Linked DNA regions of Homo sapiens. The protein of the gene in region 1 purifies or fractionates together with the protein of each later gene. This does not show direct contact. Each region holds a gene or a part of one and is shown on either strand. Other genes may lie near its edges.

Region 1 (4,512 bases):
GATAAAAGGCCAAACTGCCTCAGGAACATCTTACGCACATCCTTTGGCCGGGTGCTGTGGCTCACGCCTGTAATCCCAGCAATTTGGGAGGCCGAGGCGGGCGGATCACCTGAGGTCAGGAATTCCAGACTGGCCTGACCAACATGGTGAAACCCTGTCCCTACTAAAAATACAAAAAAATTAGCCGGGCGTGGTGGCACGCGCCTGTAAAGCCAACTACTCGGGAGGCGGAGTTCAAGAATCGCTTGAACTCCGGGAGGCGGAGGTTGCAGTGGGCCGAGATCACGCCATTGCACTCAAGGCTGGGCGACAAGAGCGAGACTCCTCCAAAAACAAAAAAAAACCCACCATCCTCCTGGGCAGCAAGTCATACCCTCCCGCCGCGCCCCCTGCCCCCCACCCCTGACCCCTCTCATCCAGGCCTATAATTGCCCCAGCCTGTAAGCAGTGAGGGGTTCTGGCACTAAGCTAGTTCTCCCCATCACAGGTCTCGTGCTGGACATAAAACCTGCATTGCTGTAGAGCTGCCAACTCTGCCTTTCTTTAACCCTCGCCTTCCCTTCAAAACCTAACAGTTATTATTAATAGATTTCTGTAATTTTCATTTCACAAGTATTTTCACAGATAATTTCAACTCCCTGTAAAATGATAACTCACTTCTCAGGAAGGAGATAAGATCATGAAAGTTCACAGTTTTTATTGGGGATAATACGTTCCCTGTGTACATATACTCCAACTATGGAATGGCACAAAATGTCCTGTCAGGAAATGGCATGTATCAGTCACTCTCATTTTCAGACAGGATTGAGACTTTTAAAATAAATGTAAAATATTTCAGACATGAAGTAATAAGTATTATTAGAATAAAAGCATTGCACTCTTGGTAGGAACACAATCACTGACTCTACAGACAGTAATGATGTTTTCTTCTGGATCCAGAGGCACAGCGTCACCCTTTCAATCTACGTCGGTATCTCCTGTCTTCTTTTGTGCAAATTCCCAGCCATGTAGTCTTTCTTTGTTCTCTTGGACCAACCATATTGAAGCTTAATAAATAGAAGTCAAAGTTTAACTGTATGTGTATTTGAAAAGCAACATATGGCTGAGAGGCATGAGTAGAGACAGAGTGCCTTTGTGGTATAGTGTGTCCCTTTGGCGGTGTAGCCGTTGAGAACTTGCTGTGCTTCACAATCCGATATCATAGGTCCCTCACATTTCTGTGAGTATCCTAGACCTTACTTCAAGAAAATCTGGTTATGTCGCCTTTAAGAGCAACCCAAGCCCCGTCCTGTCCGTGGAGTCCGGCACTCTGTTTACCAGCTCCCCTGACGGTGCCACTGAGCCTCTATCCGCCATATAAGGACTGACCAACGCTCTAAGGCAAGTCCAGAAGCGGTGTCGAAACTTCATAACCCAGAAGACACTGCGGTTCTCGGCAGCGCGACTGACCCAATGAATGTGCAGGAAGGAACCTTTGCGTGCGTGCGTGCGTGCGTGCGTCCGTCCTCGTGCTCGCGCATCGTAGGAGGGCGGGACTTCCGGCGTCCTCTTGCCGTGGTTGATTTGATTTTCTCTGGTGTTTTCACTAGTTCCGGCCTTTGGCGCTCTATGACGTCACCGAAGTGACGGAGCGGAAAAGCGCGAGAAGCGGCTTGGTTCCTTGTACGCAGAGGCGGTAGTGACACAGGCACAACTGACAGTGGCAGAAGCTCAGCTGACAAGGACTGGGGACGGCGGTGTCCTTGTCTTGCCTTTGTCGCCCCCGCCCCTCTCTTCCCTGGCTGGACTTGCGGAGTCCCCGCCGAAGAACCCGAGGTGGGTGCCCCGTCCCAGGCCCCCCCCCACCTCCGCCCGACCCCTCCTTCCAGTGCTGAAGCCCATAGAAGGGGCCCTGCAGGTCAGGCCCCTTGTCTCGAAGAGAGGGGCGTTCCTGTGTGGGGTCCCCGTATCAGCTGGTTTGATGCAGCCTCAGAGCTCCCTTCGGGGATCTCAGGTTCAGAGCATGGAGGTGCTGCCAAGTGGGCCGCGTCGGGGAGCCCGGAGTGTGGGTTGTTTCTGCGGGAAAGAGAGGGTTTTGTGAATTTTCTCTTGGAATGGCAGCCTGAGCAGCCGGTATAACCATGGAAGGTTGTCAAGGGAAGACCAGTGGGAGGGGCAGGTCCAGAGTTAGAACGAGCAGGATGGGGAATTGACACAGAGAGACCCAGAAGAGGCCACTGCAGTGGATCCCAGAGGCTGCACCAGAGCCGTGGTATAAGAGGGACAATGTGATGGGATTCTGGATAGACCTGGAAGATAGAGCCAACAGGTTTTCCTGCCGTATCAGATATGTCTGTGAGCAAAAATAGGGAGTGAAGGGTCATTTTTTTTTTTTTGCCCGAACATCTGAAAGAATGAAGTTGGGGAAGTCAGCAGCATGAGAAGTAGGTTTCATGGAGAAGATCATGGGTTGGAGTTTGGCCAGTGTGATTCTCAGGCGTCTCAAGTTGAAAATGTCACATGGGTAGGGGGACAGAAAGGTGTGGAGTCTACAGAGGAGAACTGGTGTAGATTCTTCAAAAGAATAGAGGGTGGCCGGGCGTGGTGGCTCACGCCGGTAATCCCAGCACTTTGGGAGGCCAAGGCGAGCGGATCACAAGGTCAGGCGTTCAAGACCAGCCTGACCAACATGGTGAAACCCCGTCTTTAGTAAAAATACAAAAATTAGCCGGGGGTGGTGACGCGCGCCTGTAATCCCAGCTATTCGGGAGGCTGAGGCAGGAGAATTGCCTGAACCCAGGAGGTGGAGATTGCAGTGAGCCAAGATCGCGCCATTGCACTCCAGCCTGGGCGACAGAGCGAGATTCCGTGTCAAAAAAAGGTGCGGAGCGCGGGTCTCTTCCGCGGAAACTGACATTGCGTTTCCGTTGTCGGCCTCCCGCTGCAGGAGCCATATATTGAAGACCATGTCTGGAAGCTTCTACTTTGTAATTGTTGGTCACCATGATAATCCAGTTTTTGAAATGGAGTTTTTGCCAGCTGGGAAGGCAGAATCCAAAGACGACCATCGTCATCTGAACCAGTTCATAGCTCATGCTGCTCTCGACCTCGTAGATGAGAACATGTGGCTGTCGAACAACATGTACTTGAAAACTGTGGACAAGTTCAACGAGTGGTTTGTGTCAGCATTTGTCACCGCGGGGCATATGAGGTTTATTATGCTTCATGACATAAGACAAGAAGATGGAATAAAGAACTTCTTTACTGATGTTTATGATTTATATATAAAATTTTCAATGAATCCATTTTATGAACCCAATTCTCCTATTCGATCAAGTGCATTTGACAGAAAAGTTCAGTTTCTTGGGAAGAAACACCTTTTAAGCTGAATGGAGAAAATTCCAAAATAAATTATATCACCACAATGGTGTATACTCAGGAATGTGTACATTGTAAATTACTTGATTAAATAGCCTGGAAATCTTTTGTGTATTCTCAGCTTATCTAAACTTAATGAAATTTCTTTTATATTTAAAAATAGTACATTCTGTCTCATGTCACATATCAGTAGATCAATTAGTATTTCCTTGTGAACAATGTTATTTATAAAGAACTCATTATCAATAATAATTAATTTCTTTCTTTTTTTTTTTTTTTTGAGACGGAGTTTTGCTCTTGTTGCCCAGGCTGGAGTGCAGTGGCACAGTCTCGTCTCACTGCACCCTCCGCCTCCCAGGTTCAAGCAATTCTGCCTCAGCCTCCCGAGTAGCTGGGATTACAGGCTCCCACCACCATGCCTGCCTAATTTTTTTTGTATTTTTAGTAGAGACGGAGTTTCGCCATGTTGGTCAGGCTGGTCTTGAACTCCTGACCTCGTGATCTGCCTGCCTCGGCCTCCCAAAGTGCTGGGATTACAGGCATGAGCCACCACTCCCGGCCATGAAATATTTTTACTTAAAAATTGGGAATAAGCTTTCTTTTTCTTTCTTTCTTTCTTTTTTTTTTTTCTTTTGAGATGGAGTCTGGCTCCTGTTGTGCAGGGGCTGGAGTGCAGTGGCACGATCTTGGCTCACTGCAACCTCCACCTCCCGGGTTCAAGCAATTCTCCTTCTTCAGCCTCCCAAGTAGCTAGGATTACAGGCATGCACCACCACGCCTGGCTAATTTTTGTATTTTTAGTAAAGACGGGATTTCACCATATTGGTCAGGCTGGTCTTGAACTCCTGACCTCGTGATCCGCTCGCCTCGGCCTCCCAAAGTGCTGGGATTACAGGTGTGAGCCACTGCGCCTGGCCATGAAATATTTTTTACTTAAAAATTGGGAATAAGCTTTTTTGTGTGTGTGTGTATGTTTTTGTTTTTTTGTTTTTGAGATGGAGTCTTGCTCCTGTCATGCAGGCTGGAGTGCAGTGGCACGATCTTGGCTCACTGCAGCCTCTGCCTCCCGGGTTCAAGCAGTTCTCCTTCCGCCTCCAGAGTAGCTGGGATTACAGGCATACGCCTGGCTAATTTTTGTATTTTTAGTAGAGACAG
Region 2 (3,795 bases), on another chromosome or scaffold:
CTAGGGCGCGGTGCCTCACGCCTGTAATCCCAGCACTTTGGGAGGCCGAGGCGGGCAGATCACCTGAGGTCAGGAGTTCGAGATCAGCCTGGGCAACACAGCGAAATCCCATCTCTACTAAAAATACAAAATTAGCTGGGTGTGGTGGCACATGCCTGTAATCCCAGCTACTCGGGAGGCTGAGGCAGGAGAATCGCTTGAACCTGGGAGGCAGAGGATCCAGTGAGCTGAGATCGCACCATTGCACTCCAGCCTGGGCAACAAGAGTAAATCTCCGTCTCACAAAAAAAAAAAAAAAAAAAAAAAAGTAGTATTCTAAGGAACACACTTTACAAACACTGAAATGGAAGCCAGGCAGGAGGAGATAAGGGACAGAAAGAGGGATGGTCCCAAACAAGGACAAACTTGAGACTTGGCAGGTGCAGGAGTTTCCCAAGCCAGACTCTCCTGGCCCATCCCAGAATTCTCAGCTGGCCTGCCCCAAAGAAAGGTATGGTGCCTCACGCCTGTAGTCCCCGCACTTTGGGAGGCCGAGGCAGGTGATCACCTGAGGTCGGGAGTTCAAGACCAGCCTGACCAACATGGAGAAACCCCGTCTCTACTAAAAATACAAAATTAGCCAGGCGTGGTGGCGCATGCCTGTAATCCCAGCTACTTGGGAGGCTGAGGCAGGAGAATCACTTCAACCTGGGAGGCAGAGGTTGCAGAGAGCCAAGATGGCACCACTGTACTCCAGCCTGGGCAACGAGTGAAATGTCGTCTCAAAAAAAAGAAAGGTACCGGTTACTGAGGGAGACATCACCGTGGAGACCTGAAGGCCGATGACAGAACTTGACCACAGGGCGCCGGGCAGAGGGCACAGTTTGGACTCGATACACCCCAGGGACACAGCCCCGGAGAATGGATCCCACCAGCTCCAGCATTGCTGCCCCCTCTGCTTTCTCCTCCTTTGGGGTCTCTGCTAGTTCCGAGGCCTTCCCCAGGTCCCCCTCTTCCCTGTCCTCTAGCAGTGGTGAAGCTGGAGGCAGAGACTGGGGAGAAGCAAGGGTCTCGGAGGCCAAGGCAGAGTCCGGAGTTTGGGGCGCCAGGGAGGAGGAAGGGGTTTCAAAGTCCAGGGCTTCAGAATCCTGGGGAGAAGCAGGAGGTTGTGAATCTGGAGGGGAAGCTGGGGTGCAGGCCAGGGCTTGAGGGTCCAGTGGGGAAGCCAGGGCCGAGTCCAGCGATGGAGATTCTGGAGCCTTTGGGACTGGCTGTGGACAGAAATGAACTGAGTGAAATGTTTCTGCTGTTCCCTAAGCAGGGATCTCTCAAGATAATATTACTTCCAGCTTATTCAGCTCTATTCTAAGGTCTTTATACATATTAACTCATTTAATCTTCACAGGAACCCTTTTTTTTTTTAAAGATAACCTTTTAATTCTATAAAATAAAAGGTCTACCTCTGCAAAAAATGTCATTGTCGTGAAAGACAAAAACAGAGGAACTATTACAGACGAAAGAGAAACTGTAACAGTCCATTGACAGGACAGCTGACCAAATTAGAGTATGGACTGTAAAGTCTGTAAAGGTTTACATCTGTGTCAATGTAACATTTCCTCAACTTGATAATGGTACTGTGGTTATACACTAGAATACCTTTACACTAGAATACCTTTGTTCTTGCATAACACACATTGAAGTATTGAGGGGTAAAGGAATGTGATACATGCAACCTTCTCTCAGATGATTCAGAAAATATAAATAGAGAGTGTGTGTGTGTAGAGAAAGATAAAAATAATGATAAAACATTTTAAAACTCCTGTTGCGGGGGCAGCAGGCATATAGAAACTACTTTCTGCTCACTTTTGCTGTGAATCTAACACTGCTCTAAAAAATAAAGTCCATTTTTTTTTTTTTTTTTTTGAGATGGAGTCTCAATCTGTCATCCAGGCTGGAGTGCAGTGGCGCGATCTCGGCTCACTGCAACCTCCGCCTCCTGGGTTCAAGCTGTCTCTCCTGCCTCAGCCTCCTGAGTAGCTGGGATTACAGGTACGTGCCACCATACCCGGCTGATTTTTGTATTTTTAGTAGAGACAGCATTTCACCATGTTGGCCAGGCTGGTCTCAAACTCCTGACCTCAGGTGATCCACCTGCCTTGCCTCCCAAAGTGCTGGCATTACACAGGCGTGAACCACCGCGCCCGGCCAAGTCTATTTTTTGAAAATAATAATAGGCTGGGCATGGGGGCTTAAACCTGTAATCCCAACAATTTGGGAGAATGAGGCAGGAGGATTCCTTGAGCCCAGGAGTTCGAGACCAGCCTGGGAAACATAGTGAGACCCTATTTCTAAGTAATAATAATAATCCTTTCCTAAACAGAATCTGTACATTAGATGTTAGAAAATACAGGTTAAGTGGCCGGGCATGGTAGCTCATTCCTGTAATCCCAGCACTTTGGGAGGCCAAGGTGGGTGGATCACTTGAGGCCAGGAGTCCAAGACCAGTCTGGCCTACATGAAGAAATCCCATCTCTACTAAAAATACAAAAAATTAGCCAGGCATGGTGGCGTGTGCCTGTATTCCGAGCTACTTGGGAGGCTGAGGCACGAGAATCACTTGAACCCAGGAGGTGGAGGTTGCAGTGAGCCGAGATCACAGCACTGTACTCCATTTTGGGTGACAGAGTTAGACGGTCTCTCAAAAAAAAAAAATACACATAAGCAAAACTAAAAGGACCTTATTGTATAATTTTAAATATATTTTTTCCAAAATAAGATCATATTGCACACACCATTTTGAAATTTTTTTTTTGTTATGACTGCCAGGTATCCATGTCAATTCTTTTTTTTTTTTTTTTTTTTTTGAGGAGTCTCCCTCTGTCACCCAGGCTGGAGTGTAGTGGCACAATCTCGGCTCACTGCAACCTCTGCCTCCCGGGTTCAAGTGATTCTCCTGCCTCGGCCTCCCAAGTAGCTGGGACTACAGGTGTACACCACACACCCAGCTAATTTTTGTATTTTTTTTTTAGTAGAGATGGGGGTTTCACTATATGTTGGCCAGGCTGGTCTTGAACTCCTGACCTCAGGTGATCCACCCACCTCAGCCTCCCAAAGTGCTGGGATTACAGGCGCGAGCCACTGCGCCTGGCCCTGTCAGTTCATTTTCATCCTATCTAATACTCATCCATATTCACATCTCTCCAATTACAATAAACTCTTTCAGGTAGGTCCTATTATCTGCATTGTAGATGAGGAACTAAGACATGGAGAGCTAAAGGACTTGCCCACAGTCACATGGCCATTCTCATGGACTTTTCCCAGCTGCCTCCCTGGGACACTCACTCACCTGGGGCTCTTCCAAGTCACCCAGATCCAAGAAGAGGTCAAGATCACAGCCATGGACATCGAAGCTATTTATGGAAGAGCCAAAAGGGTGGACCACACAGCCTGGGTGCCGAGCAGAGAAGAAAGGTCAAGAGAAGTTAGGGAGGAGCAGGGGGAAGAACAAAACAGAGCACAAAGATGGAAGAGCAACCAAACACCTCTAGCGGAGGAAGGACTGGGGATACAGACACAGGAGAGCAAAGGCCAGGGAGGGCTCAGACATAGTAGGGGAGGTAACTTACCAGGGAAGAACTCTGTGAAGACCTCCTGCATCAGGGCCACCACTAGGCTGCGAAGCTGCCGCTCGGCCTCGGACAACTCCCTCAGCCCCACAAGCTTTATCATTTGTGCCCCCACGTCTGCAGCCTCAGCTAGCGCTTTGGCCAGCTGGTGACTGTCGGGGGCCGCTCCTTTGGGGGATTTGGAGGCCGG

What was found.
Region 2: the proteins of ZNF547 (region 1) and TUT1 purify together in Homo sapiens (affinity purification with mass spectrometry; one large-scale study listed by BioGRID and IntAct). This does not show direct contact.

Annotation. Positions count from the first base shown.
Region 1 is NC_000019.10:57,361,889-57,366,400, forward strand, and holds the start of ZNF547 (zinc finger protein 547), read left to right. Parts: upstream 1-1,662; 5' UTR 1,663-1,815; intron 1,816-2,926; exon of another isoform or gene 2,927-2,945; coding exon of another isoform or gene 2,946-3,368; exon of another isoform or gene 3,369-3,517; intron 3,518-4,512. Other genes in the region: TRAPPC2B (trafficking protein particle complex subunit 2B), read left to right, coding at 2,946-3,368. UniProt on the Homo sapiens protein: May be involved in transcriptional regulation.
Region 2 is NC_000011.10:62,577,781-62,581,575, forward strand, and holds part of TUT1 (speckle targeted PIP5K1A-regulated poly(A) polymerase), read right to left. Parts: coding exon 3,606-3,795; intron 3,427-3,605; coding exon 3,326-3,426; intron 1,251-3,325; coding exon 781-1,250; intron 1-780. UniProt on the Homo sapiens protein: Poly(A) polymerase that creates the 3'-poly(A) tail of specific pre-mRNAs. Localizes to nuclear speckles together with PIP5K1A and mediates polyadenylation of a select set of mRNAs, such as HMOX1.